Homo sapiens: one gene and its partners. The protein of the gene in region 1 interacts with the protein of each later gene in a pairwise test. Each region holds a gene or a part of one and is shown on either strand. Other genes may lie near its edges.

Region 1 (7,721 bases):
GCCTGGAGTTTCTTCAGTTGCTCCAAGAGGGACCTTAGAGAGACAGGCAGGCCTCCGCTGAGCCCTAAAGGGCCTCGGTTCTGCTTCTCGTCCATTTCCGGGGTCCCCCAGCCCCGCTAAAGTCCAAATTCCATCCATTCTTCAAGGGCCTCTGGCTCTTTATTATTTATTTTATTTATTTATTTATTTGTTTATTTATTTATTTATTTATTTTGAGACAGAGTCTTGCTCCATCGCCCAGGCTGGAGTGAGTGGTGGGATGGCAGCTCACTGCAAGCTCCGCCTCCCAGGTTCACACCATTCTCCTGCCTCAGCCTCCCGAGTAGCTGGGACTACAGGCGCCCACCACCACACCCAGCTAATTTTTTTTGTATTTTTAGTAGAGACGGGGTTTCACCGTGTTAGCCAGGATGGTCTTGATCTCCCGACCTTGTGATCCGCCCACCTCAGCCTCCCAAAGTGCTGGGATTACAGGCGTGAGCCACCACACCAGGCCTTATTTATTTATTTTTGAGACAGAGCCTTGCTCTGTCACCCAGGCTGGAGTGCAGTGGTGCGATCTCGGCTCACGGCAACCTCCGCCTCCCGAGTTCAAGCAATTCTCCTGCCTCAGCCTCTCGAGTAGCTGGGACTGCAGGTGCCCGCCACCACGCCTGGCTAATTTTTTTGTATTTTTAGTAGAGACGGGGTTTCACCATGTTGGCCAGGCTGGTTTTGAACTCCTGACCTCAGGTGATCCACCCGCCTCGGCCTCCCAAAGTGCTGAGATTACAGGCGTGAGCCACTGCACGCGGCCCATAGGTAAAACTCTTATTCCCTATGTCATTCTGCCATCACATGGGCTCTCTGCTCTTCCTGCAAAGGGACTCTGGGGCTGCTTCCCCTGTCCTCTGCCCCAGCTGGACCCAGACTCACAGGTTTTGCTTCTCGAGATGCAAGACTTTCCTCTGTAACTCCTGATTCTGAGCAGTGCAAGCTGACATCCTGAAAGGAGGAAGACGCATCGACATTCAGCATATGCCAGTCACCAGCTGGCCCCACTGACATCTCCCCCAGAGGCCTCACGTTACAAGCCAAGAGAACCCAAGGCCAGAGAGGGGAAGTCATTCATCCAAGGTTACTCGGCAGGTCAGACAGGGCTGGGATTTGAACCCACATCTGCCTGGTTCCTAGGTCCCATTTCTGCATTAATATGGAGGGGGCTTCATTCAAAGCTGAGCCCCCTGGATGGGTGTGGTGGTTCACACCTGTAATCCCAGCACTTTGGGAGGCCGTGGTGGGCGGATCACCTGAGGTCAGGAGTTCAAGACCAGCCTGGCCAACATGGTGAAACCCTGCCTGTACTAAAAATGCAAAATTAGCCAGGTGTGGTGGTGGGCGCCTATAATTCCAGCTACTTGGGAACTTGGGAGGCTAAGGCAGGAGAATCGATTGAACCCGGGAAGTGGAGGTTGCAGTGAGTCAAGATCGCACCATTGCACTCCAGCCTGGGCAACAAGAATGAAACTCTGTGTCAAAAAAAAAAAAAAAAAAAAAAAAGCTGAGCCTCCTAGATTCAGGCAGTGATGTTTCCAGAAGATGAAATATCAGGACAACCAGGCATCCTGGGAGACTCAAGTTTCTTTTTTTGTTTGTTTGTTTTTTGAGATGGAGTCTCGCTCTGTCGCCCAGGCTGGAATGCAGTGGCACAATCTCGACTCACTGCAAGCTCTGCCTTCTGGGTTCACGCCATTCTCCTGCCTCAGCCTCCCGAGTAGCTGGGACTACAGGCACCCGCCACCAAGCCCAGTTAATTTTTTTGGATTTTTTGTAAAGACAGAGTTTCACCGTGGTCTCGATCTCCTGAACTCGTGATCCGCCTGCCTCAGCCTCCCAAAGTGCTGGGATTACAAGTGTGAGCCACGGCGCCCGGCCGAGATTCAAGTTTCATCTCTCCCTCTCCCCATGACCTTGGGCCACTCCACTCTCTGATCTCAGCTTTTGTGTCTGTAAAATGGGATACAATTACCCAGGACATAGGGTGGTGGGGGGAATGACCCTGGATAAAGATGATCAGGAGCTTAGCAGATTGCATTTAAGAAAGGGGAGAGACCAGGCGCAGTGGCTCACGCCTGTAATCCCAGCACTTTGGGAGGCTGAGGCGGCCAGATCACCTGAGGTCAGGAGTTTGAGACTAGCCTGGGCAACACAGTGAAACCCCATCTCTACCAAAAATACAAAGAAATTAGCTGGGCGTGGTGGCCATGCACCTGTAATCCCAGCTTCTGGAGAGGCTGAGGCAGGAGAATCGCTTGAACCCGGGAGGTGGAGGTTGCAGTGAGCCAAGATCGCACCACTGCACTCCAGCCTGGGTGATAGAAGGAGACCCTTCCACACACACAAAAAGGAAGTGTCTATCTTCAGGCAGAGGGTCAGAATAGGATGGGTCACACTTTGTCCTTTTTCCGCACACCTTCTAGGGGGCAAAGGGTCCCCCAAACCCTTGTCCTACACCATCACTAGGCATCTTTCCATCCCTGCAATCAGTAAGAAGCATGATCTCTCCCAGAGAGGAGAATCACCTCCAATTTTGTCAGACTCTAAGCTGTGTGGCCTTAGCCACATCTCCTTCTCTCTGGGCCTCAGTTTCCTCCACGAGTGTAGAGTCTGGGTCCAGCACTACCCACCGAGTCTCCAGGCCATCGATATATTCCTTCTTCTTCTTCCTGCTTTCTTGCGCCGACTGCTTGTTCCGGATTTTCCGGCGGATTTTTTTCAGCACTCGCTCCTCGTACTGCCAAGTGAAATGGGGAGGAGGGTTTCAGGCCAGAAAGTCCCCACTTGGAGTCCGGGGGCAGTAGCTCTCGCCTGTAATCCCAGCACTTTGGGAGGCCGAGGCAGGCGTATCACCTGAGGTCAGGAGTTCGAGACCAGCCTGGCCAACATGGTGAAACACCGTCTCTACTAAAAATACAAAAATTAGCCAGGCATGGTGGCGGGTGCCTGTAATCCCAGCTACTCGGGAGGCTGAGGCAGGAGAATGGCATGAACCCGGGAGGCGGAGGTTGCAGTGAGCCAAGATCGTGCCATTGCAATCCAGCCTGGGCAACAAGAGCGAAACTCCATCTCAATAAATAAATAGATAAATAAATAAATAAATAAATAAATAAAATAATTAAAATTAAAAAATTAAAGTCTTCACTTTGGGGATGGTGCGACAGTCCCCACTGTCCTGACCCCACTTCACCTAACCTCGACCCCACAACTTCACCCCATCCTCTTTGCATACAAGACATCCCGGAGCCAAGGACCCAGAGGCAGATTCCTAATGACTTGAAGCTACCCTTTGCCCAAACCCTCACAGAGTCTCTGGGAGGTGCCTGGGTTCTGAGGGTCTTTTCCCAGCTCCCAATACTGTAAAATGGGCAACTGCCCACCAGACTTTGGGCATGGGTACCACTCCACCACCTTGTGGCCATCCCTGGAAACATCACCTTTCCCTGGCGACAGCAAGTGTTTTAAGACTAATTAATAATTTTTTTCTTCTTTCTTACGTTTCTTTCTTTTCTTTCCTTTCTTTTCCCCTCCCTCCCTCCCTCCCTCCCTTCCTTCCTTTCTCCCTTTCTCTCTTTCTCTCTTTCTCTTTCTCTTTCTCTCTTTCTTTCCTTTTCTTCCTTTCTTTCCTTCTTTTCTTCCTTTCTTTCTTTCCTTTCTTTCTTTCTTTTCTTTCTTTTCCTTTCTTTCTTTCTTTCTTTTCTTTCCTTCCTTTTCTCTCTCTCTCTCTCTCTCTCTTTCTTTCTTTCTTTCTTGTTTCGCTCTTGTCACCCAGGCTGGAGTGCAGTGGCAAGATCTCAGCTCACTGCAACCTCCACCCCCAGGGTTCAAGTGATTCTCCCACCCCAGCTTCCCAAGTAGCTGGGATTACAGGTGCACAACACCATGCCTGGCTAATTTTTGTATTTTTAGTAGAGACAGGGTTTCACCATGTTGGCCAGGCTGGTCTCAAACTCCTGACCTCAGGTGATCCGCCCATCTTTGCCTCCCAAAGAGCTGGGATTACAGGCATGAGACACCACACCCGGCCAATAAGTGTCTTCAAATGGGAATGTCAGGCTGGGCGCGGTGGTTCACAGTGCTGTAATCCCAGCACTTTGGGAGGCCAAGGCAAGAGGATCGCATAAGTCCAGGAGTTCAAGACTAGACTGGGCAACATTTAGTAAAGACCCTGTCTCTACTAAAACAAAACAACAACCACAAAATCAGCTGGGTGTGGTGGTGCATGCCTATAGTCCCAGCTACTTGGGAGGCTGAGGCAGGAGGATCCCTTGAGACCAGGAGTTCAAGGTTGCAGTTAGCTGCTACCTGCAGATTGTACCACTGCACTCCAGCCTGAGCGACAAAGTGAGATCCTATCTCAAAACAAACAACAACAACAATAGAAACAGATGGGGCCAGGCACGGTGGCTCACACCTGTAATCTTAACACTTTGGGAGGCCAAGGTCAGAGGACTGCTTGAGGCCAGGAGTTTGAGACCAGCCTGGGCAACATAGCAAGACCCTGTCTCTAAGGAAAAAAAAAAATGCTGGGCGCAGTGGCTCACACCTGTAATCCCAACACTTTGGGAGGCTGAGCTGGGCAGATCACAAGGTCAAGAGATCGAGACCATCCTGGCCAACATGGTGAAACTCTGTCTCTACTCAAAAAAAAAAAAAAAAAAAAAAATTAGCCAGGCGTGGTGGCGCGTGCCTGTAATCCCAGCTACTTAGGAGGCTGAGGCAGGAGAATCACTTGAACCTGGGAAGCGGAGGTTGCAGTGAGCCGAGATCGCGCCACTGCACTCCAGCCTGGGCAACAAAAGCGAAACTCCGTCTCAGGAAAAAAAAAAAAATTAGCTAGGCATAATGGCATACACCTGTAGTCCCAGCTGCTAGGGAGGCTGATGTGGGAGAATCACTTGTACTCCAGAGGGGGAAGTTGGAGTGAGCCAAGATCACCTCACTCCACTCCAGCCTGGGCAACAGAGTCAGAACCTGTCTCAATAGAAAAAAAAAAAAAACAGATGAGAATATCAAACTCAGGCATTGATACTGAGTGCAGCAGGCTGGGTGGGGACTGTGGTTAGCTAGAGAACCCAAACAGCTACCCAGCCATTGACTGGTGCATATGGAGGTTTGAGAATATGAAACAGAGGACATTCAAGTAATTGAGTTGGTTTTTTGGATTTTGTTTTGTTTATGTTTTTAGTTTTTTTGTTTTTGTTTTTGTTTTGACAGAGTTTCGCTCTTGTCACCCAGGCTGGAGTGCAGTGGTACCATCTCGGCTCACTGCAACCTCCACCTCCCGGGTTCAAGGGAGATCCTCCTGCCTCAGCCTCCTGAGAAGCTGGGAGGCTGAGAAGCACCTTACAGTTGCCCACCACCAGGCACAGCTAATTTTTGTAATTTTAGTAGAGACGGGGTTTCACCATGTTGGCCAGGCTAGTCTCGAACTCCTGACCTCAAGTGATCCTCTGCCTCAGCCTCCCACAGTGCTGGGATTACAGGTGTGAGCCACCGTGCCCAGCCTCAAGTCACTGAGTTCTCTTGTAAAATCTACCGGTCAGAAAAACATTATCAAGCAATTCAAAAATGTATAAAATGCAGTACAGTCCAATCAAAACATGTCTGCAGGGCCAGGCATGATGGCTCATGCCTGTAATCCCAACACTTTGGGAGGCCAAGGTGGGAGAATCACTTGAACCCAGGAGTCCCAGCCCAGCCTGGGCAACATAACAAGACCCCATTTCTACAAAAAAAAAAAAAAAATTAAATTAGCCAAGTGTAGTGGCGTGCACCTGTCATCCTAGCTACTTGAGAGGCTGAGGCGGGAGGATCTCTTGAGCCCAGGAGGTCAAGGCTGAAGTGAGCTATGATGGCACCACTGCACTCCAGCGGGACACAGCAAGACCCTATCTCCAAAAAAAAAAAAAAGTTTGCTGCACCCAAATTGCTGCCACCTGGAGTCCGCCATTCATTCCTGGATGTTGATAATTACCCTCTGAGTTGAATTTACAATGGGGCTTCTGACTGATTGTTTTGGCTCTGGTGACAGACACAGCATAGCATTCTAGTACGGGTGTTCTAAAGGTGAGACACATAGCCAGTGCGGTGGCTCACGCCTGGAATCCCAGCACTTTGGGAGACCGAGGCAGGAGGATCACATGAGGTCAGGAGCTCGAGACCAGCCTGGCCAACATGGTGAAACCCTGTCTCTACTAAAGATACAAAAATTAGCTGGGCGTGGTGGCGCATGGCTGTAATCCCAGCTACTCAGGAGGCTGAGGCGGGAGAATCGCTGGAATCTGAGAGGCAGAGGTTGCAGCAAGCTGAGATCGTGCCACTGCATCCCAGCCTCAGTGACAGAGAAAGACTCTACTCTAAATAAATAAATAAAGGTGGGACACACATGCAGGTAAGTGCACGAAGGGGAGATGGATCCAGGGCTGGAAGTCCCCCCAGACTCACCTTAGTGAGGGGCAGCTGAGTGGGCAGGGTGATGCCTTCTTTAGCCAGCAGCTTCTTCTCATCCTCGGTGAGCACCAGCTCCTGACAGTGCCCAGCCCCAGGTCGCAGGAGGTAGGAGGCCCCCAGGTGATGCTGTTGCTACGGAAAAAATCAGAGGAATGACGGCGGGTGCAGGGACGCCAACTGCCTTCAGGAAATGAAAGAGGTATCAGATCGAAAACACTATCACCCCAGGCTGGGTGTGGTGGCTCACGCCTGTCATCCCAGCACTTAGAGAGGCTGAGGCATGTGGATCACTTGAGCTCAGGAGATCGAGACCAGCCTGGGTAACATGATGAAACCTCGTCTCTACTAAAAATACAAAAATTGCCCAGGTGCGGTGGCTCATGCCTGTAATCCCAGCACTTTGGGAGGCCGAGGTGGGCAAATCACTAGGTCAGGAGTTTGAGACCATCCTGGTCAACATGGTGAAACCCCGTCTCTACTAAAAATACAAAAAGTTAGCTGGGCGTAGTGGCGGGTGCCTGTAATACCAGCTACTTGCGAGGCTGAGGCAGGAGAATCGCTTGAACCCAGAAGTCAGAGGTTGCAGTGAGCCGAGATTGTGCCACTGCACTCCAGCCCTAGTGACAGTATGAGACTCCGTCTCAAAAAAAAAAAAAAAAAAAAATTACCCGACCATGGTGGCGGCGCCTGTAATCCCAGCTACTCAGGAGGCTGAGGCAGGAGAACTGCTTGAACCCGGGAAGCAGAGGTTCCAGTGAGCCCAGATCACACCACTGCACTCCAGCCTGAGAGACAGAGTAAGACTCTGTCTCAAAAAAAAAAAAAAAGAAAAGGTGGCTCACGTCTGTAGTCCCAGCACTTTGGGAGGCCGAGGCAGGTGGATCACTTGAGGTCAGGAGTTCGAGACTAGCCTGGCCAACATGGTGAAACCCTGTCTCCATTAAAAATACAAAAATCAGCCTGGTGTGGTGGCACGTGCCTGCAATCCCAGCTACTCGGGAGGCTGAGGCAGAAGAACCGCTTGAACCCGGGAGGCAGGGGTTGCAGTGATCTGAGATCCAGCCTGGGCGACAGAAATTCTGTCTCAAAACAGCAACAACAAAAACTATCACTCCTGCCACCACAGAATCTCCCTTGGCAGCAGGGCTCGAAATAACCAACACACGGTCCTTTGACCGGGTCATTCTACCTTCAGAAATCAGTCCTACAGATATCCTCACACACGCGCAAAA
Region 2 (7,721 bases), on another chromosome or scaffold:
CTCTTGAGGACACACTTGAGCGATGTGTTTTTAACCAAACCTCAGGGAAGGCAGCCTTGTCCTGCTGCTGTTGCAGCCTCCATAGCTCTCTTGGGATCAAGGACTGTGTTGATGTCTTCAAGCCAACAAGGAGCTTGGTGCCAGTACTGTCCTGAATTATTGGCTCTAGCCCCTACAGCCTCTAATCTGATTCTAATAGGCACTATTTTTTTTTTTTGAGACGGACTTTTGTTGCCCAGGCTGGAGTGCAATGGCACGGTCTCAGCTCGTTGCAACCTCCGCCTCCCAGGTTCAAGTGATTCTCATGCCTCAGCCTCCCAAGTAGCTGAGATTAAAGGCGCCCACCACCACACCTGGCTAATTTTTTTGTATTTTTAGTAGAGACAGGGTTTCACCATCTTGGCCAGGCTGGTCTCGAACTCCTGACCACAGGTGATCCGCCTGCCTCGGCCTCGCAAAGTGTTGGGATTACAGGCATGAGCCACCACGCCCGGCCCTAATAGGCACTATTCTTGCCCCGCAACCTGGTCTGGCTAGCTGCTTGCCATCTAGGTCCCTTTCAGCTGACATTTCCTTTACAATGACATTCTTTTCAATGAGATCTAAATTTTTTTTTTAATGAAATGGGGTAGATGAGTACAGTTGTGTACGATTAAGTTCTTGTTATCTACCAAAGTGGCCTAGATATCGGCAGCAAAGGCCCAGAAATACAACCCAGGTCTAGCTATTTCCCTGCCTAAAGTAGAAAAAAAATAACATTAGCTTATAAGTCTGCTGCTCCAACCAGGGCCAAGCTGGTCTTGAGCCCTTGTTTAAGACAAACACTACCCTTCCAAGAGTAACGATACCCCACCTCACTTTAGCAGTCCCTCTTTCTACCATGTACCGCAAAATTTAAGCAAGAGCAGAACTCTTACTGTCACATCTAGCAAAATCTTGGCCTTCTAAAGGTTTATCCGTAGGTGTGTTTGTCTGACTCTCAATACTTTAGTCACCAGCATTCTCCCAGGCACTTACTTGTACATTCTGCCCCACCACAGAGATAAAGACATACCATAAGCTTCATAAGAATCTTGAACCTCCCCATGTCCATAGTCATAATATTCTGAGTCCCTGAAAGCCAAAGGCAGAGTGTTAGGAAGCTACAGAGTAACTATGTTTCAACTTTCTCTCAAATACTTCCATAAGTCAGTCATTTTACTAAGTGTATTAATACAGGAAAATACTCATTCTGCCCCATCCCTAAACCGTAAAGTATTTCCAAAATATGTATAGACTATGTACTTATAAAATAATTGACAACTATTGCAAAGAAAAATGGATACCACAGAATATAAAGTGAAAAAGCACAATCCTAAATTGACCCTTTTAATATAGCATATATATACATGTATTCATAGGGCTCACCAGAAGGAAAAAAGAACTGTTTTATCACTGCTGTAGAATTCTGGAACTCTTTTTCAATCAATTCACAGGTAAGCTATATATATGGACACACAAGGAAATGGTCTTAAAGAGAAATGCAGAAAAGAACCTAAGTTATGGTAATGGAATTCAAGTTTCTTGTAAAATTTTATGGAGCTTTAATGTGGTTTTGATATTTTAAAATAATAAATCAAAATAACATAAAGGCATTTCTCCTTGTTTCCATGTAGTCACAGCTTGGAAATTTTTCATTTGTTACTCTCAGGTTCTAAATTATAATTTAAGGTTCACAGTTATCCAGATTTACAAATCCAAGTGTGTGCTTCACAGATGTCAAACGCAGAGGAAAGCATTGCATGGTGGCACGCACCTGTAACCCCAGCTACTAGAGAGAGCTAAAGTGGGAGGACTGCTTGAGCTCAAGAGTTCAAGACCAGTCAGGACTGTGGGGGTTGCAGAGGAGATACCCTCAAAAGGCGAACCATTCTGCTCCTTAGGGTTGTACTGTCTAAATCTCTCTGTTCCTCCAACTCCCTCCATCCATCCTCAGGACAAAAAACAGTGCTTATACTGCCTGACTCACCCTTGACTCTGGCTGTAATAGCCTTCGTAGCCTTCGTAACTTTGTTCTGCGTATGTATCATCATATCCCTAGAACAACAACAACAAAAAAATGAAATAAAAGATCAAAATCATAGAGAGTAGGAAAGGTAATTACATCCCATGGGAGTAAGTAGGCTTCTGAATTAAAAGGACATGACATTTCCCTCCAAAATGTTAATGCCTACTGTAGAATAGTCAAAAGAGAAAGGGTTACTAAACAAAGAAAACCCAAACAAATATGATATGCCACAGAAGAAGTGTGGGCAGGAAGTAAAGTACAAAATCGAGCTTTAGTATTATCAGTACTAGTAGTAAGAAATTCATTATAAAATACTACATTAAAGTACATTTTATTTCTTGTTTAATCTACAGGCGTATAGTAAAACCCTGCCTAAAATGGAAAAATCTTCTAATAGTTCAACATTCACTGCAAGAGAAGAGGGCAGATTGCAAATCTTACAGGCAGTCCATGACACCTACATAAAGGACCGAGGCCCTGTCATTCAACTTCCTTTAGCAGCCTTCTAGGTACTGGGAAATGGCACATTGTTCAAATTTCTTACATATTCTTCATATGTTTCTGGTGCAGGAGGTGGAGGCAAAGGTATCCTCTGGATGCCCGCTGTCCGTGCTCTTGGTGCTGGAGCACCCCTCACAGTAGGTGGGGGTGGCACGCCTCGAGTCACAGTGGCACCTCTGGTGATGGCTCCCCTTACTGGTGTACCACGTACCAAAGCCCCCCGAGGTGGTCCAACACCACGGCCCCTACAAAATGAAAGTTTATCTTAAATGGAGCTTTTTATAAACAGGCCACTTTTATGTTCTGATTTGTTTACAAATTCTGGAATTAGGCAGATTTTATGAAGCCTTAACTAGGCTATTATTAAAGCACAGAGGAATGTACAGGGTAAAGGACCCACACTGCAAGATCCCCCAGGTCCTATAGAGGACCAATTCATCACTGCACTGCCTTGGGTAGGTCTGGAGAGTCTGAATACTCTATAAAGGTCAGTCACAAAAGGTAGAATTTTAAAGTCAGACCATTAACAAATGCTAAGACTGTCCAAAATTAGAAGACCAAAAGTTTCAGCTAGACTGCAGCACTTGGCTATGGTCAAAGTGCCCAAGATCTAGAACTCTATTTTTTTTTTTTTTTGAAATGGAGTCTTGCTCTATCTCCCAGGCTGAAGTGCAGTGGCATGATCTCGGCTCACTGCAACTTCCGTCTCCTGGGTTCAAGCAATTCTCTTGCCCCAGCCTCCTGAGTAGTGTGGTGTATGCCACCACACCTGGATAATTTTTGTATTTTTAGTAGAGACAGGGTTTCACCATGTTGGCCAGGCTGGTCTCAAACTCCAAATGTCAGTTGATCCGCCTGCCTTAGCCTCCTAAAGTGCTGGGATTACAGGTGTGAGAGTATGGTTGTAGAATTCTGTTCTTTATGCAACATACAAATCCTGAGACCCTTCCTAAGCTAGACATAAGAGCACCACTAAAAGAGATGACACTAGTAGTCAAATTCACATCCTATTTCTGGGTGTCTCCATTATTTTTACCTGGGAACAGGTGGTGGAGGAGGTGCAGCTCCCCGGCCTCTCACTGGCACCCCACGTCCACGAGAGGGTTCAGGTACTCCATTCAAGTAGGACAGCTCTAGAAATTGCTCCTGACAGATATCATCCATCATATCCTGGGAACGAAAGATACAAGGAGTATTGTGTGGTATCTACACTTTCTACTGAGAAATCATCTGGTCCACGGGAGACTTGAATTCTAAGAAGAGCTCTTGAGAGCCCAGATGAGGTCTCAGGTCATTCCTTCTCTGAAGTCAAATGGCACCCTATCTGTCACCTCTTTGAGAAAAGTCTTGATGGTAGACCCCTCATTATTCATAATGTGGTCTCTGCCTAGCTCTCCGGATCACTTCCATTCTCTCTCTATATATAACCTACTCACAAGCCAGACTGAACAACTTGTAGTTCAGAGCCTGGCATACTCTTACATATCCATTCTTTGCAAATAGTTTCCTTTTCCTGGAATAATAAAAGCCACTACCATTAATGGAGCTGTATGCACTTGGCTCTATATAATAAGCTTTATATAGATTTTTCAGTTTAATCTTCAAAATGAGGGCCGGGTGCAGTGGCTCACGCCTGTAATCCCAGCACTTTGGGAGGCCGAGGCGGGCAGATCACGAGGTCAGGAGATCGAGACCACCCTGGCTAACACGGTGAAACGCTATCTCTACTAAAAATACAAAAAAATTAGCCGGGCGCGGCAGGCACCTGTAGTCCCAGCTACTCGGAAGGCTGAGGCAGGAGAATGGCGAGAACCCGGGAGGCGGAGCTTGCAGTGAGCCAAGATAGCGCCACTGCAGTCCGGCCTGGGCGAAAGAGAGAGACTCCATCTCAAAAAAAAAAAAAAAAAAAAAAAAAATCTTCAAAATGACCCTGAAATAAGTAGGCAGATCTCCACATTTTACAGTTAAGAAAACAGACTCAAGGAGTATACATCAACCAGCTTAAGAACACAGAGCTAATAAATGGCAGACTCTAGATGTGAATTCAGAATTACCTGTCTCAAAATCTAGGTGTTGGATCAACAGGCTTTTTTGTCCTTATACTGTCTTTTTTGTCCACCTGAGGGATTCTTAATTCATCCTTACAAGACTTGCCTAAATAAGTGTCTCTTGAAAAACTTTCTCTTGATGCCACCCCTACAACTCCTCTTTTCTCAAAGTACCACATAATTCCCTATACCCAAGCACTTACCACATAATTTTAGAATTGTCTGTCACTAAACTGTAAGCTCTTTAGGAGCCATTTTTGTAACTTTACACCCAAGCATAGTATCAGACATCTGACAGATACTTAAGAAATGTTTGGGACGAACAAGAAACCTGAAGCTCAGAAAAGTGAAATGATAACCTGTTCAGGAAGACACAGATAGACAGACATACATAGTCCAGTGCTCTTCCTACGGCACTGTGAAGCATTGCTGGTATAGTTAATTGTTCTAAGTGGAAAATGGAGGGCTCTGGTCACAGATGCAAAAATAGCCTCACTTTTCTTTCCTCCACAAGAGGGAAAAATCAAATGCCACTGGCAAATCTTTTCACACTTCCTATTGAGAGCCATTCAGTCTTAATACTTCATGCATTTTTATATATCCCAGGCGTATACAGCTTCAATAGATGATGCTAGTCTTTGATGCCCCCCTCAACTCTCTAGCTCCTCCTACCTTACACATTACCGCTGCTTGAGACTCACACCTTGGAGAATCAAGTAACCAATGCCAGACCATTGCTCAGACTCCTCCAACTGCCACATCAACACTGAGGAAACCCACATCTCCCCGGCAAGCATCTTTTTCAAAAGATTCACTTACAAGCAAGCCTCATAAACCTAACCCTTCTGAGGAATATGAGGGAGACTAACAATGAAGAGAGGAGATGGGCATTCCCTCTGCAGTCCTTTGGAAATTGAATGGCTTGGGTGATCAATAGAACACCCCAAAAAGAGTAAAAAGAATTTCCTTAAGATTATTAACCAGCTGTGTTTTTCTCTAGGATATGTTAAATGGTCTGTTTCATGTTGAACATTCTTTTTTTTTTTTTTTTGAGACAGAGCCTCACTCTGTCACCCAGGCCAGAGTGCAGTGGCGCAATCTCGGCTCACTGCAAGCTCCGCCTCCCGGGTTCATACCATTCTCCTGCCCCAGCCTCCCGATTAGCTGGGACTACAGGCGCCTGCCACCACGCCCAGCTAATTTTTTTTTTGAATTTTTAGTAGAGACGGGGTTTCACCATGTTAGCCAGGATGGCCTTGATCTCCTGACCTCGTGATCCACCCGCCTCGGCCTTCCAAAATGCTGGGATTACAGGTGTGAGCCACCGCGCCCTGCCTCATGTTGAACATTCTAATGAAGATGAGGTACTTGAAAGCAAAGCAGCTGCTAAGACATTTGAGACTGTTGGAATCCTTGGAGTTCAGCATTATGGGTACACAATGCCTAAAAACTTATTTATTTATTTTTTTTGGAGATGGAGTTTCACTCTTGTTGCCCAGGCTGGAGTCCAATGGTGCAATCTCAGCTTACCGCAACCTCTGCCTCCTGGGTTCAAGTGATTCTCCCGCCTCAGCCTCCCTAGTAGCTGGGATTACAGGCATGTGCCACCACGCCCGGCTAATTTTGTATTTTTAATAGACAGGGTTTCTCCATGTTGGTCAGGCTGGTCTCGAACTCCCGACCTCAGGTGATCTGCCCTCCTCGGCCTCCCAAATTGCTGGGATTACAGGCGTGAGCCACCGTGCCTGGCCCACACTGCCTATAAATTTTTGCCCTATCAATTTTCACATCATCTGACACCACATTTAGTTCTAATTCCCTCATTTAACATTCAAGAAAACCAAGGACTGTATCTTACCTCCTCCTAGTTTTCTGATGAACACATGACGCTTACTCAATTCTACTTAATAATATTCCAAATCCTTCATAAGTCTCCAGATTCATCCTTGTTATTAAATATTCAACAGTAGTATGTTAACTCTGACAACCACCAGGCCTTGCTAAAAGGCAAAAATAGTACCATTTCCTATTTATTCAAAGTAATATTCCAACCAAGTATTCAAAGGTGGTAACAAGCAAGATAGATAAACTGGCCTGTCCCATCTCTATCTAGTCCTCAGTAATAGTCTGAAAAAAGCTGCTCACCTATCTGTTAAACATCAATAGTCAACCTCTTCCAAACTAAACTCGTCCTCAGCAAACTCCTCCAGGAAAGAAATCCCTGAGTGTGCTCAGGTCAGAATTTAACCCAATAACACTAGATGCTATAAGCTTCTTGCTGCTAGTCTCTACTCTCTACAGCATGAACTTCTTGAGTGCAGAGACCCACCTTAGTCACTTTCCTAACACAATCTCCTTGTTCCACACTACTACCAAAATACTCAGCTAGGTGAAGACCCTGTTAAACCTTAGTTAACCAAATATCAGAATGCAGGCACACTGTGGACCCGAGATACTGACAAGATACCGGTACACAATGAAAACCACATTAGACAAGGAGGGATAGAGTGGCCTTGGAGCATAATGCTTTGAGAACTAGGTGCAAGTAACGAACTACCTAAGGAAAATGAACATAAGTGCAGAATTTGGTATACATACAGGTTATGCAGAGACCTTAGTTAAGAACCCCTACCTTCACAACAGTATAAGATCCCAGTTCTCTTTTGCTCAGAAGACACAGGATATGGATTTCCTTACCGGTACTAGAAATTTCTTGACTTCCTCCATGGCATGGGCCATAAGAGCATAAGCCTCACATGGGGGTCCAAAGACTTCAATGAAGACATGCAGATCCATATTCAAGTGGGCATATTTGGGGTCTCCACCTTTGCGCAGCTCTTCCTCCTATGGAAAAATGCAGAGAAATGTCACACCATGGACTAGGGAGAAAACACCACCTTTACCTCTAAGCCAAAGGAACAGCAAGAAATACCCCTAATGTCCATGAAAAACAGTAAAGTTAATTGGTATGAGCTGAGAAGAATTAAACAAAAAAAGAAAAAAGAAAAAAGAAAAACAGTAAAGTTTAAGAAAGTAAAACAAGCAGCCAGGCGCGGTGGCTCACGCCTATAATCCCAGGACTTTGGGAGACTGACGCGGGAGGATCACAAGGTCAGGAGTTCGAG
Region 3 (7,721 bases), on another chromosome or scaffold:
GGTACCTACCTCCCTTGCTAAACATTTAAAGAGGCCACACACGAATAGCACTTTACAAAGAACCCAGCTAAGAATCAGCACTCAATAAAGGACAGATACCATCAGGGCTCAGGAGCCAGCCCTCTGGGGACCTCCCCCAAGGAGCAGGAAGAACCAACCCACTAAGCAGCAAGAGTCTAGCCAGAATTTCCTCATCTCCTCAGGAAAAGAAAAAAAAAAACTCAGATCTCGATGCTTCCTCTTTAAGGATCATTTTTAACTGCAGGTTCTGGCCAGGGACCTCCACTTCAATTCAAAAGGAGCACCCTGAAGAAATGGCAGAAGTTGAGATGGGAACACGACCAGGCCAAGCAGGGCAGCCCCTCAGTGATCCAAGACCACCACCTGCAGCAAACACTGCAAGGCCAGAAATCTGCTCTGCTCTTTTCTCCAGCAATGGGATCAATTACACCCTCAGAGGGGCTGGTCTGGGGGCTAAATGCCAGTCCTCACCTGCTCCACACTATTGCTGCCATAGCTCAGCAAGAGACAGCCAAGACCCCAAGGCAGAGGGACAAGTCCATCCCTGCTTGAAACAACAGCCTGGAGGAAAAGCAGCCCATTCTGCCTCCTGAGGGCGATCCCCTAGCTGGTGGGCACACTGTGCATCCTCCCATGCAGGAAAGAGCACAGGGCTATGGGTCCTTCTCCTCGTTTCTTGGGGGACAAAGCACTCAGGACCCCATCCCTTGGGCCTCCAGGGAAAGCAAGGCTCCAGAGGCACAGTTGTCTGAATGGGTAACAGGAAAGAGTTCTTGGATCACTAACTGCTCTGCCAGTGGAGTTTAACCCCAAAACATTCACTGGTTCCAGCACAAGTTTCAAAATCAAACCACTGAGTGCCCAAATAATTAAATGGATCACGTTATCTCACCTCACCCTTGCCATCGCACAGAAGGGGGCTACGCCCATTGTGAGCAACTGTTCTTTGGCAGGGGAAGAGAGACAAAGGTAGGAGGGAAATGAATTACAAAAGGGAAAACAAGCCTATTTGGAGATTTCAAGCAAGACTGGGTCCTAAGGATTAGTTCACTAACCTACTCAGAAGGCTGACACTGCCTGCTACCTAGAGTCTGCAATAATGCCTTGAAATGTTATTAGCAGGGCTTCCCCCTCCCAGAGGCCACAGCCTTTACTGGGCCCAGGTCCTTCCTTTCAAGTCTCTCTCATCACAAAGGCCCTCTCACCCCTTCAATTCCAAAGGCACTGGATATCCCTCAGCCTCTCAGCCCCTCAACCTCTCGATGTGCCTTCAGGTACTCTGCTTTCCCCTTGCTAACCCTTAGCTAACTCACCCTTTCTACCTCTGCTGACATAGAATTCCCTCCCTCCCCACAAAAACCTGCCCTCCCCCAAAAACAAATTTTGTCCCCTACTGTACACGAAACCCTGTACTTCTCCTTGGCAGCACCTTGCCAGGTTTGCTTAAAGGGCTTCCTTCTTGATGGACTGTAAGCTCCATGAAGGCAGGGACCACTCTGAGATTACCTACTATAACCCTAGCCCAAATATTTCAATACCCCAACAATACCCCAACCTGACTTTCCAACTTCACCTCCCTCCCCAAGTACTTCAGCCTCCAGCCATACCCCTCAAGGTTCCAAAATCGCCATGCTTTTACTACCACTGCTCTATAAAAAACCCAGGTCACCTCTCAAGGCTCTGCTAAAGGCCAACTGCCCCAGGAAATCTTTCCCAATCTCCCAGCAATACACATGCCTCTCACCTTCACCCTGGTGGAAATAATCAAGCAAGAGAGCCACAAGGACCTACCTTCTAATCAGATTCCCACTAACTAGGGGAGTGAGCTTGGACAAGTCATTAAGCTGGAGCCTCATTGCCCAGATAATAAATTTGAACTCCTGGAAAGGATAATGTAAACCACCTAACGGAACCTGGCATATAGTATGCCCAGAGCTCTCGCCCACCATCCCGCTACACCCTAATTAATGATTTGTTGCTAAGTCATCTGTCTTGCCCTTAGACTGTGTACCCCTGGGGGGCATTTCCTTATGTAGGCTCCACCACCCCTAGTCCTCTGAAGTGAAATCAGCCTCGTAAAACAGCAACAACAGCATCACCTAACACAAACTGAATGATCAGTGTTTAGTGTGTATGTTTAGATAGTGCTTAATTCCTAGTATGTACAGGCAATCCCATTTTTTTTTCTTCATCTTAAAGTTCAGGGGTCCATGTGCAGGATCAATGAATCCCATTTTTAATATACCCATGCAGAACACACATGCAATAAAATATATACATACACACATGCATCTCAAAATTCTTAGTGTAATTTTAAGCTTTAAAAACAACAAAATTATAAAAGCAACAGACTTAACATCATCTGGAAGTTCAATTATTTAAATTTCTTTTACACTCAGTTGATCAATTTTGAATGCAAAAGTTTTGATTTCACATCTTTTAGTCCCTCTCATTAGAAATGAAAAATGCTAAAATTCCCCAAACAGAATCTGGGGAAATTTCAGAAGTTACGTTCACTTTAGCTACTAGAGGAATGTTTTCATTTTCTTTCTATGGCAAAGTGTTCAATCTGGAGGCAGTAACCAGTGGATTCTAGGCCTGTAGCTCTCCCAACCCTGAGTGCTGTGCAGGTGGCTGGCAGCAGTGGCTGCTATCAAATTTTGTCTCTCTTTTGTAAACTGCACCACACAAGAGCCATCTTCTGCCTTGGCTTGCTTCTCACCAACACAGAACTGTTCTCCATGGTGTGGAGGAGACATAAAGTATTTCAGGAACTGTACTACCTTCTTACTGCCGACAGTCACAGACAGGTACAACCAATATAAATGAGCTCTTCATCCTGTCCTTTAACCACCCAAATGCAGTGTTAAAACATTCTTCTGGTCCTTCCACCATCCTGTACCTGCAGGATGCTTGTATAGATTACCCCACCTACTCGAATCTCTGTTAGTTCTGTTATTTCATGTCAGGTGACCTTTAAAAGCTTGAAAATCTGTGTCATGCATTAGCTCTCCTGGGTGAAAGCTGCTTATGTTCCAGTCTGCCAGAAGCATGGTTCTCAGTAAGCTAGGCTATTCTTCAACTGCCACGCTCTCAACAAATTTCAGATAATATTGGAGATTAACAAATGCAAAAAGACTTGCAGATGACTTATAAATTATAAAGCCACTCCAAAAATGCTTTTGTTAGCTAAGATTTTCAAACCGTACAGTACTTAATGTTTGGAATAACTCATCAAAAAGGCTGAAATTGTGCTCACTAGAATGATCAACAACCCGAGGAGACAAAAAACAACTCAATAAAAACTTAATGAATTTATTTCCTATCAGTCTTGTCAGGTTGCATTTTGAATTCTATCCACAGCATGTGATGAAAGTACCCAAACCATAATGTAATCTTATGTACTACATCAAGGATCTAGTCAGCATAATTTTCTGGGATCTGGTGTGAAAGCACACTCCTTTGTGTCTACAATCCTTCCGCAGGAAGGGCCTTTCCCCAACGCAATCAATCAATCAATCCATCAATCAATCATCAGTCCAGAAAAGCCTAATTGCTCACCCATCACCAGTTCTGATTATAATTAGTGTTCTATAATCATGGAGCAGGAAGCACAAGATGGGAAAGGAGGGGGGCCACCGAGGTCCTCCGAGGCACTTGGTAATCACGATCAGCCGTTTTATACCAATAGCCTAGAAGCCAAACACACAACTGCTCGCTCTGGTTAAATTCTGTTAAACCAGTACTAATAAGAATGGAAGTACAAAGCTTGAAACAATGATTTCTTATCCTAAAAACAGATTCTGCATGAGCAGAAAAGCAGGGATAAGCAGAGTGAAGTGTTTGAGAGTGAGAAGCATTATGCGGATGGCTAGAAAGAAAACCTCAATCGAGAATGACTCGCAATAGCCTTAAACCTGCTGCTGAAAATGCCCCCTGATGCATATTTATTAGGTCTGTCATCCAAGAGGCTTGTATGCCACAGTATTTCCAGCCATCATTAATAGGCATTAATGACCACAGCCTTTCAACGCCACTGTGGCGCACTGCAATGCAGCTCCGAGCAGCTGGTGGAATCAGAACAGATGGCCTGCTTCCCTTCAAGGCAGGACTTTCTGCAGGTGACAACATGACTGCTAGGTGACTGACAAAAAGAAAAACAAACAAAAGTTGAAACTGGAATATCTGATGTCAGTAAAGCACATGTTTAGTTTCTCAGGGAAACTTTGACTTGGGCCCTAAAGGTTGGTAGGATTGTTTACAAAACTGCAGTTGTGCTACAGAAGCAGAGTGCTCCTTCCAAGTCCAGAAACATTCACTAAGCCCTGGCCACATCTCCATGTGGGGTGGCAAACTAGGGTGTGCCACAGAAATCCATTTCTCCAAGAGGCTCAGTGAGTACCTAACATGCACCAGAAAGGGAAGCCCAGCATTCCAAGGAGGGGGGAAGTCAAGGTTCCTACCCTCAAGGGGCAATACGCTCTGGTGGAATTCAATGGCCACTCTGGGCACATGGCAAGCAGCACAGAGGGCAGAACCACGTTTTTGTCCAGGGATACTTAACTATCTGCCCTTGTATTTGTTTACACTTCTATTTTTCCCTTCAGTAAATTGCTTATATACGTTGCCTCTTAACGGGATACTTGGAATCTTCTGATTGAAAGAGCAGAACCCACTCAAGGTGGCTTAAACAGAAAAAAAAGTAAGTAAAAACCGAAAGAAGTGGGGACTCTCAAAGGACACAGGACTATTTTCTCGGAAAAGCTTTTCCTGATTATTTTGTCCAAAAGGATCCCCCACTACCTTATCCCTAGCATTTCACCCTGCCAATTCACCCCCCCCCTGCCCACCCAATAACTCTCTTCCTCCTTATCCTGCTTTAGTTTCCTCCCAGCAGTCTCTGAAGTTCCATTTTTTATCTACTCCTTTGCTTGCTCACCTCTCTCAAAAAAAGGTAAGCTCCAAGCAGGCAGGAAGGGCAGCTGTCTGTCTTGTTTGCTGGTGTAGCCCAGGGCTGGGAGCAGTGCTGGTCCTCAGTCAGTATCTTGAGTCACTGAATGAATGGTCAATCACACGAAACTAGGTCTCAGGAGGTACCCGAACCAGGAACTAGAAGCAAGACAGCTGCCCTCTAGCTCACACTCCATTCTCTCTCTGCCTTGTTGGGCTGCAGCCTCAGTTTCTCCTTCCAACTCCACTGTGCCTTCCAACTCCACTCTGCAAAGAGCAGAGGGCTTTCTTCACTCCCATCTCATACTAGCAAAACCCTGAGACAGTCTCCTGTGCTCTTAGGGTAAAGTCCAAACCCCTTCCAATATCTTATAAGCCCTTCATGATATCCCCCCATCATCATCCCTCACAATGTTTCATTCAATCATTCTTTCCTAGCCATAAAGAGTGTTTCTCTGTTCCTCAAAGTAGCTGCACGTTTTCATCTCTAGGTTGCAGAATACTCCAAACCTTCTTCGGAAAGCACTCCTTCCCTCTTATCTCCATCGTGGTCATCCCCATCTCATCCTGGCACATGGCTAGGGGACCCTGCTAACACATCCACCATCCCAGCCTTCAGGTCTTCCAGCTAGGCTGTCAGTGCTGCAGCAGCAGGGACCATGACTGTCTTGTTCATCTGCGTATCCCTTAGTGCAATCCACAGCATCTGACAAGTGGCAGATGCTCAAATATTTGGGGAATAAATAAATGAACCATGTATCAGTAACGGTTATTCACAAAGAGGCTGGGACAAAAATAAGAGAGCAGTTCACCAGGAAAAGGAATGTGTCTGCCTTGTCCTAGCTGTATTCCTCATGCCTGGAAGAGTAGACAGCCAATAAATATTTGCTGAATGCATACATTCCTGGCTTGCCTGATGTAACTCCACCCCTTTCTCTCCCACTTGAGAAAACACATCAGAATGCAAAAGGGTGAAAAATGACATTATTAACATGACATATCTGAATCATTTGAAAGATCCACACTTTATTACTTGTCATAAATTACTGGCCACATACCCTCAAGACTGATCATCACATATGAGGTACTTGAGACAGTGGTTGAGAACAGGTGATTTAGACAAAGCTAAGAAATATGAAGCACTTTCTGCTCTTATTATTTTATTTTCCAGAAGATGAAGGTGACAATAAGCTCAGTAAGAACTAATAACTGAATTATTCTAACCTTTACTTTTCTTTTTATAAAATAGATTTCTGCACACCCCAGGAGAAACGTTTAATTAAATCAAAAGACATTATAAATTCCTTTTCACAGTTATTTTTCTCCCATACCAATGAGGTCTACCAAGTTGCTGTTGTCTCCATTCAAAAGCCAACCTACAACCCCATATACCTACTTTCAGGAAGGCCACACTGCAAGCCCTGCACAGCAGATATAAAACCAGTGCTCCAATGTGACAATATTGGTCTTCCTCAAATATAGCAACGGCTATTTTGTTTTGTTTTGGTCCTTTGTGCATAAGTATTTTATCTTTTCGATAAAATGTTTGGTAAAATTACTGAACCTGAATCAAGCCTGTTTTACTTTCATTTATACACAGCATCCCCAAATATTGATCACAGGATGAAACACAACCAGAAATGAAAAGACCTAATGAAGCTTTCAGTCTTGGTGTGTTAAAGAGAGAAATAAATAAATCTGAGAAAGCCAGACCAGAAACCACACAGCAACACAGACAGCCACATATTCCAAACAAGGCTAAAGTTAGTAAAGGAAAATATAGCAACTCAAAGCCAGTAACACCGTAACCCTTAATAGCCCACAGAATTAGACACTCCATCCACACAAACAGATCTGAGCTCTTCAGATCACCCCACATGCTGAGCTACAGTAAAGATTTTGTTTTATAAATTTTTTTAAAGTTCAAAGACCTTTTAGTCTATAAAAGATACTAATGTTTGATGTCTTTGGGCCCAAATTAGAGTGGAGGATGAGAAAAGGAAAAGTGTTAGGGTATATTTGAAGGTTTCTTATTGCCACCAAAGGGTGGAGTAGTCAAGGCAAAGTGCTGAGGTTACAGCAACAACAAAAAGCATACAGAAAGTGGGACCTGCTTTTAAAAAAAAAAAAAAGACCATAAACTCTACAAGCTACTATACCCCTCTTTGTCTTACCTAACAAAACACTGAATCATCCAAAGGAAATGAGGCAGGTATCTACCTCCTTTTGTAGAGCTTATCAATTTCTACTAAAATACTTCATTTTTCAGTCATATTTAGTCATATTTATAAATTTTCATTTGTAGAGGTTCTTACCCTCTTTTTGTGCCAAGAATCCCTTTGGCAGTTTGATGACATGTAATGAGCCCTTCTCAGACTAATGTTTTTAAACATACAAAATAAAATACAAAGGATTACAATTGGAATCACTTATACTTAAATATCAAAAGTCTTAAATTGCTATACACATGTGCACTTCTGTAATAATGCATTAAATAACAAAATCTAGCAGCAAGTCTTTTTGTTGCCTACACTCATAAGTGAATGAAAATGCTAAACTGCAGTTTGAATATCATGAAAATCAAGACATGTTTTTCCCCCATCTAAGTTCAAGAATGTCCCGAACTCCATCTGTGGACCCTAGGTTAAGAACCCTTGGTTGAGAGAGCCAATAAAAATACATTTTGTGAAGCATCAAAAGAAAAAAAAAAAGTCTTGCAAAATGCATTATCCATTCAACTGTGAGGTGAG
Region 4 (7,721 bases), on another chromosome or scaffold:
GCCTTGTCAGTTCTTTTCCACAGCTGTCCTCATCTGCCCTATCAAATTCCATACACTTACACATGCTACAAAGCAGCTCCAGACAGACTTTACTGTTCTACTTGCCACTGTATCTCCCGCACCTGGAACAGTGCCTCACATGAACAGGTGCTCAATAAAAACTTGTTGGGTGGATGGAAGCAGGTGAACTGGGTCCCATGGGTGGGCAGAATTCACTCTATCTTCCAAAAGGCATCAAGCAGTCCCTGGGGACTTTAAGATGCCAATCCACGGGGAAGAGAAAGCTCCTCTGTTTGGGGCGAGAGAGTGTATCTCACCTCTGAATGGTTTCCTCCTGTTCCTTAACCATGTGTGCCAACTGCTGAAAGATGGAGCCCAACTCAACAATTGTCGACTCAATGTTCTGCATGGTGTCTGCCCGACTCTGGATGTAGGAATCCTTCAGGAGAGGGAGAGAGCACATGAGCACCAACAGCTTCTTCAGGGTCAGACCTGCATTTTTACAACCCTCCCAGCTTGCCATTCTGCCCATGGCACACTCCAAACACTCTCTCGGGAACCACAGAGGATAATGGAGAAGCTGATTCTACCTAGTTCAGAGCCTGGGTACCTGCTCGTCAATGAGCTGCAGCTGCTGGCTGGTCCGAGAGTCCATCATGTCGATGGCGACATCCTTGGAGGCATGGGACTCTGCCCCCAGAACCACAGCACCACCGCCTGGGGGAGAAAACAGGATGTGGCACACCTTAACAGTTAAAAGCAGGTTCAAAGCCCACATGCTCTGGGTTTGAATCCCAGCTCTAGCACTTACTAGCCTTGTGACCCTGGACAGGTCATTTAACCTCTCTGAGCCTCAGTTTCCTCACCTGTAAAATGGGGGATAATAATAGTTGCTTTCTCAAAGGGTGGTTGTGAAAATTAAATGAGAGAATGTGAATAAAGTGTACGAAAAAAAATTAGAAATTATCATTATTCTGAATATAACTGAATTCACCCCAACAGTGAGAATGTGGGAGTCTAAATGTGGATCACGAATCTCAACCATCTGGTTTGGCCTCTGAGAGATAAAGCCTAGAAAATTCCTTGACCTTCCACTCTCCTACCCAACCCGTGCCTTTAGAGGATGCCATCACAACCAGAGTAAGTAACCTTACCTCCCAGGGCTCCCCGTTTTACCTGTGACTTACCCAGGTGGTTAGGGGCAAGGGGCAGGGCTGACACAGGTGCCCGGGAGAACTGCTCTCTCCGGCTCCTCTGCTGCTTCAGGTTCTGGGGTTGGGGAAAAACGCAAAGGACCTGAAGCCACTAGAAAGCAGGCATGTTAAAGAGACTCCCACCATTGGCCCCATGACCCTGTAGAACTTGTCCCTTCTTCATTTCCCTCTTGGATCTTTACTCCCATATTCCTACCCCTCCTACGCAGATTGTTCTCACCTCTGTCCTCACTTCTAAAACCGATTTGAAGTCATTGGACATAGAAGCCAGTTTCGACTAGAAGAAAAGGAGAGAGGGTCAACCAAAGAAGGCTCCACATTCTTCCTCTTTGCCTCCCTCCCTTCCTCCCCAGGTCCCACCTGCAAGGAGACCACAATGGTGTTGGAGTGGGTCTGCAGGTGCCGGCCACTCTGGCTGCCCTTGGCTCTCACGAAATCCTGGAGCTGAGCAATTTGTTTGTTGAGGCTATTGATGTCCTGGTAAAAGAGTCCAAGGAAAAACAAAGTATTAGCCAAGGAGTCCTTAGTCAGCATCTCTCACGATGGCCATCTCTGGTAGGAAGGACAAGGTGGAAGTTACTAGCCAGAGTGAGAGTATCTCAGACAGTCAGACCAGATGGGCCTGCTAGGATTTTCCAAGGTCTAGTGTTTGCTCTGGCTCAGTCCCTGCAGAGAAGAGCTACAAAGAGGCAAAATAGGCCTTCATCCATTGTAAATAACTTGTTTACTCCTCCAGCCTACTGCCCTGCTCCATTCTGTGAGGCCATGCTCTTGGCCACAGAACCCTTTCAAAGGCCAAAATCTCGGGTCTAGGGCATGACCAACAAAGCCCCCGGACAGTACTCAGGAAAAGGGAAGAGTCAAAGGCACTGTAGTTTCGAGAGGCATCAACAGAACTATTTTCATACACACAATTCCTCAATGGCTAATGTCTGTAAACCCACCACTTTGAGAGGCCAAGGCAGGCAGATCATGAGGTCAAGAGATTGAGACCATCCTGGCCAACATGGTGAAATGCCATCTCTACTAAAAATACCAAAAATTAGCTGGGTGTGGTGGCGCGCGCCTATAATCCCAGCTACTTGGGATGCTGAGGCAAAAGAATCGTTTTGAACCTGGGAGGTGGAGGTTGCAGTGAGCCTAGATCGCGCCACTGCACTCCAGCCTGGCGACAGAGTGAGACTCCGTCTTAAAAAAAAAAAAAGTTATTATTGGCCTGGCGCGGTGGCTCACGCCTGTAATCCCATCACTTTGGGAGGCTGAGGTGGGCGGATCACCTGAGGTCAGGAGTTTGAGACCAGCCTGACCAACGTGGAGAAACCCTGTCTCTACTAAAAATACAAAATTAGCCGGGCGCGGTGGCACGTGCCTGTAATCCCAGCTATTCGGGAGGCTGAGGCAGGGGAGTCACTTGAACCCAGGAGACAGAGGTTGCAGTGAGCTGAGATCGCGCCACTGTGCTCCAGCCTGAGCAACAAGAGTGAAACTCTGTCTCAAAAAATAATAATAAATAAATAAATAAATAAAATAAAAGTTATTATTACAGTCGAGTGCAGTGGCTCACACCTGTAATCCCAGCACTTTGGGAGGCCAAGGTGGGCGGCTCACTTGAGGTCAGGAGTTCGAGACCAGCCTGGCATACCCCGTCTCTACTAAAGATAAAACAATTAGCCAGTCATTGGTAGCGGGTGCCTATAGTCCCAGCTACTGGGGAGGCTGAGGCAGGAGAATCGCTTGCACCTGGGAGGTGGAGGTTGCAGTGAGCCAAGATCGCACCACTGCACTCCGGCCTGGGTGAAAGAGCAAAACTCTGCCTCAAAAAAAAAAAAAAAAAAAAAATTATCCAGGAATGAGGGCATGTCCCTGTAGTCTCTACCACTCAGGAGGCTCAGGCTGGAGGAAAGCTTGAGGCCAGGAGTTAAGGGCTGCAGTGAGCTAGGTCACACCACTACACTCCAGACTGGTCAACACAGTGAGACCCCCCTCTCTAAAAAAAGAAACTTGCTCTGGGTCCCCATGGCAATGGAAAATGACAGGAAGACAGAAGTGATCTGATTGGAATGCTGGGCTCTCCTGATGGCTAGTAGCTCACCTGTTTGATGATATATGTTAGCTCTTCAATTTCCACTGCTTTATCATCAAAGAGGGACTTGCGCTTTGCCACTACAGAGACAAACAAGAAGCCACAATGGGTGAGGTCAAGGACAAAGCTCAGGGAATATAGTCCTCAACCCTCTTTGATTTACTGCCCCACTTCTGAAAGACCCCAAGAACACTCACAGATTGTCAGCTTCTCCAGCTTGGCAAATGTGTTGCTAAGGTCTTTCCCAATGCGCCTGCAAATGACCACTAGTCAGACTGTGGGAAAGGGCAGGACGCCTTTTCCCACATAAGCTCCAGCATAACCAATCCCAGACTTCACAGCCAAGGCCACTGATTGCAAGTCTACTTTTCTTCAGACACTGTATCACCCCACCAGAAAGCTTCTCTCAACTCACTTGGCCATGAGGGTGAATTCACTGCGTTGTCGGACAGCACGCAAAGCTGGCTTATTTGTCTGGATTCCATTCTGAAAAGCAATGGCAGGAGGTGACAACTTTAGTTCTCCCTTCCCCAGTTCCAGCTTTCACTCTTCCTGAGGTGTCCACTAACCTATCTCTAGTGCTGGTGGCATCCATCAGATGATCTAGATTTATGAGTGGTAGTCGTTTAGAGTCCAGATTTGAAGAGCAGGTAGACCTGAGTTCAAATCTTGACTCACCACTTACTACTAGCTGGTGGATTTGGGGCGAGTTACTTAAAACATTCTAAATCTCTACTTTCTCTTCTATAAAATGAAGACAATCCACACATCTCCTATTGTTGCTAAGGTTAAATAACAAAAAGGCTGAAAAGTACTTCAGTCAACTACCTGGTACATAGTAAGCACTAAATAAATGGTATCTAGTATTGCCATTCTATTCCTCAAATCAGGAAATCAATAAGGATGATTGCAAAGCTCTTGGAGATCATACAGAAGAGCAGCTTTACCATGAGCTGAAAAACACTTCTTTATAACTTTTCTGTTTTTGAGACAGGGTCTCACTCTGTCTCCCAGGTTGGAATATAGTAGCATGATCATAACTTACTGCGGCCTCGACATCCTGGGCTCAAGTGATCCTCCAACTTCAGCCTCCCAAGTAGCTGGGACTACAGGGCACACCACCACACCTAGCTAATTTTTAACTTTTTGTAGAGATAGGGTCTTGCTATATTGCCCAGGCTGGTCTTGAACTCCTAGGCTCACGCAATCCTCCCACCTCAGCCTCCCAAAGTGCTGGGATTACAGGTGCCAGCCAGCATGTCCAGCCATCAGTAAAAATATTTAAAAATACAGTTACTCGGCCGGGTGCAGTGGCTCACGCCTGTAATCCCAGCACTTTGGAAAGCTGAGGCAGGCGGATCACGAGGTCAAGAGATTGAGACCAACCTGGCTAACATGGTGAAACCCCATCTCTACTAAAAATACAAAAATTTAGCCAGGTGTGGTGGCATGCACCTGTAGTCCCAGCTACTCAGCAGGCTGAGGCCGGAGAATCACTTGAACCTGGGAGGTGGAGGCTGCCGTGAGCCAAGATCCCACCACTGCACTCCAGCCTGGGTGACAGAGCGAGACTCCGTCTCAAAATAAATAAATAAATAAATAAACAAACAAACAAACAAATAAATAAATACAGTTACTTGGCCAGGTGCAGTGGCTCACACCTGTAATCCCAGCATTTTGGGAGGCCGAGGCAAGCAGATCACGAGGTCAAGAGACAGAGACCATCCTGGCGAACACAGTGAAACCCCGTCTCTACTAAAAATACAAAAATTAGCTGGGTGTCCTGGCACCGCCTGTATTCCCAGCTACTTGGGAGGCTGAGGCAGGAGAATCACTTAAACCCAGAGGTGGAGGCTGCAGTGAACCCAGATCACGTCACTGCACTCCAGCCTGGCAACAAAGAGAGACTGTCTCAAAAACAAACAAACAAACAAACAAACAAACAAACACAAACTGCTTACTCGGGTCCCACTGGGATTGTTGAAAAAAACACTCCCGGCTGGGTACGGTGGCTCACGCTTGCAATCCCAGCACTTTGGAAGGCTGAGGCGGGCAGAGCACCTGAGGTCGGGAGTTTGAGACCAGCCTGACCAATATGGAGAAACCCCGTCTCCACTCAAAATACAAAATTAGCCAGGCATGGTGGCGCATGTCTGTAATCCCAGCTACTTGGGAGGCTGAGGCAGGAGAATCACTGGAACCCGGGAGGCGGAGGTTGCAGTGAGCTAAGATCGTGCCACTGCACTACAGCCTGGGCAACAAGAGCGAAATTCCCATCTCAAAAATAAATAAATAAATAAATAAATAAATAGCACTCCCAAATTTTTTTTAAGAGGAGCTGAGTGCAGTGGCTGACACCTGTAATCCCAGCACTTTGAGAAGATAAAGCAGACGGATCACTTGAGCCCAGAAGTTCGAGACCAGCCTGGGCAACATGGTAAAACCCCATCTCTACTAACAAAACAGAAATTAGCCAGATGTGGTGGCACATGCCTATAATCCCAGCTACTGAGGAGCCTGAGGCAGGAGGGTTGCTTGAGCCCAGGAGGTCAGATGTTGCAGTGAGATGAGATAGAACCATTGTACTCCAGCCTTGGTGACAGAGTGAGACCATGTTTCCAAAAAAGGAGAGAGAGAGGCCAGGTGTGGTGACTCATACCTGTAATCCCAGCACTTTGGGAGGCTGAGGAGGGCAGATCACCTCAGGTCAGGAGTTCAAAGCCAGCCTGACATGGTGAAACCCCATCTCTACTAAAAAAAAATACAAAAATTAGCCGGGCGTGGTGACGGGCACCTGTAATCCCAGCTACTCGAGAGGCTAAGGCAGGAGAATCGCTTGAACCCAGGAAGAGGAGGTTGCAGTGAGCCGAGATTGCACCATTGCACCCCAGTCTGGGCGACAAGGCAAAATTCCTTCTCAAAAAAAAAAAAAAAAAAAAAAGAGAGAGAGGAAGAGACTGGGCCTCGCTCAGCCTTCTAAGTAGCTGGGACTACAGGCACATGCCACCACGTCCAGCTTTTTTTTTTTTTTTTCCTGTAGAAACAGGGTCTTGCTTTGTTGCTCCTGCTGGTCTCTAACTCCTGGCCTCAAGTCATCCTCTGGCCTAGGCCTCCCAAAGTGCTGGAATTACAGGTATGAGCCACCACATCCAACCCTAAGTGATTTTGATACAAATTACTGATCTAGGGCCAGGTGTGGTGTCCAGACCAACCTGGGCAACATAGTGAGACACTGCCTGTACGAAAAAATTTTAAAATTAGCTGAGTGGTGCATCCATGTAGTCCCAGCTGCTCAGGAGGCTGAGGAAAGAGGATCCCTTGAGTCTAGGAGTTCAAGACTGCAAGTGAGCTATCATCACACCACTACACTCCAGCCTGTTGACAGAGTTGAAAAACAGATCTCAAAACAAAACAAAAACAACAAATTACTTATCTAGAAAATGTCCTTAATCTTACAGAGATAAAAACTAATATGTAACTAGATTAACTAATTTTCTCATGGTTACAGAGCAAACTTATGGTAGAAGTATATTGGAAAATTCAAGGTGCATGTTTCTCAGCTAAAGGCTCTTCCTAGAACTTGTTCCTTATTCACACCAATTATATTGCAGCCAAGTACTCTCTGAAGTACTCCCTCCAGAATAGCAATCCTGCCCTCCAAAGGATTCCTCACAAAAAAAAGTCTAAGTCCTTGCCCCTAGTTAGCCAGCCGACCTCTTCTCTGTTGCTTATAGCAGACCCTACAGGCCCCATCCAAGCCTATCAGTTCCATCAGGTACCCCCCAAAATTACTTCGGTTAACAGTGGTGGAGCACAGTCCTTCCTAGATTTGAGTAAGGCTCACTCCTCGCCTTTTCCACTCCAGGTCCTTACCTGACGGGTCTGCAGCGACTTGCAGGCAGACAGAAACTCCTGGGTCCGATCCCGGCAGGACATGGTGTCGGGAGGGGGAGGGACGAGGGTCACTGGGGGGGGCAGAGGGGCGATGTCGCTGCTGCTACTGCCAGCAGTTGCAGGGGACAGGACCTGTGTCTTTGAGAGACCCAGGTAGACACCCTGATCCGTGTTCTTAGACCCGTAGCGTTTCCGCGGGATCATTGAGACGCATAACCTCGGACTGTTGTGGAGGGGAGAGTGTCATTCCCCAGGCAACTTCTTTACCCAAACTCCCCCGCCCCACCCCAATCAACAAATCCCCGAGCCCCTTCTGCACTTCTCGTGGACTTTCGCGCCCAGGACGCTCGCAAATCCTGGGGCGGACCAGCAGCGGAAAGGGCCCCGCTTTTCCCCTGTCCCAAGTCGAACCCGCTTCAGACTCTTCTTCCAACTTGGCTCTGGCGGCCAGAGCGCGGGCCGGGGACCCTGAAGCAGAGACAGGGCCAGAGCCAACCCCGTGGTCCTGAGACTCCGGCCCGGCCCGTGTA

The links.
Region 2: the proteins of CREB3L3 (region 1) and KHDRBS1 interact in a two-hybrid assay, tested with the Homo sapiens proteins (one large-scale study listed by BioGRID and IntAct).
Region 3: the proteins of CREB3L3 (region 1) and PELI2 interact in a two-hybrid assay, tested with the Homo sapiens proteins (one large-scale study listed by BioGRID and IntAct).
Region 4: the proteins of CREB3L3 (region 1) and STX5 interact in binary tests that used the Homo sapiens proteins (3 or more experiments, as listed by UniProt).

The regions. Positions count from the first base shown.
Region 1 is NC_000019.10:4,163,403-4,171,123, reverse strand, and holds part of CREB3L3 (cyclic AMP-responsive element-binding protein 3-like protein 3), read right to left. Parts: intron 6,622-7,721; coding exon 6,484-6,621; intron 2,774-6,483; coding exon 2,667-2,773; intron 985-2,666; coding exon 916-984; intron 34-915; coding exon 1-33. UniProt on the Homo sapiens protein: Transcription factor that may act during endoplasmic reticulum stress by activating unfolded protein response target genes. Activated in response to cAMP stimulation. In vitro, binds to the cAMP response element (CRE) and box-B element.
Region 2 is NC_000001.11:32,032,907-32,040,627, reverse strand, and holds part of KHDRBS1 (KH domain-containing, RNA-binding, signal transduction-associated protein 1), read right to left. Parts: intron 7,441-7,721; coding exon 7,294-7,440; intron 3,719-7,293; coding exon 3,585-3,718; intron 2,794-3,584; coding exon 2,592-2,793; exon of another isoform or gene 2,509-2,591; intron 2,077-2,508; coding exon 2,009-2,076; intron 1,114-2,008; coding exon 1,055-1,113; intron 1-1,054. UniProt on the Homo sapiens protein: Recruited and tyrosine phosphorylated by several receptor systems, for example the T-cell, leptin and insulin receptors. Once phosphorylated, functions as an adapter protein in signal transduction cascades by binding to SH2 and SH3 domain-containing proteins.
Region 3 is NC_000014.9:56,122,560-56,130,280, reverse strand, and holds part of PELI2 (E3 ubiquitin-protein ligase pellino homolog 2), read right to left. Parts: intron 1-7,721. UniProt on the Homo sapiens protein: E3 ubiquitin ligase catalyzing the covalent attachment of ubiquitin moieties onto substrate proteins. Involved in the TLR and IL-1 signaling pathways via interaction with the complex containing IRAK kinases and TRAF6.
Region 4 is NC_000011.10:62,823,849-62,831,569, forward strand, and holds part of STX5 (syntaxin-5), read right to left. Parts: exon of another isoform or gene 7,603-7,721; intron 7,415-7,602; 5' UTR 7,396-7,414; coding exon 7,171-7,395; intron 3,784-7,170; coding exon 3,713-3,783; intron 3,551-3,712; coding exon 3,495-3,550; intron 3,378-3,494; coding exon 3,307-3,377; intron 1,692-3,306; coding exon 1,575-1,691; intron 1,492-1,574; coding exon 1,435-1,491; intron 1,270-1,434; coding exon 1,188-1,269; intron 718-1,187; coding exon 611-717; intron 440-610; coding exon 318-439; intron 1-317. UniProt on the Homo sapiens protein: Mediates endoplasmic reticulum to Golgi transport.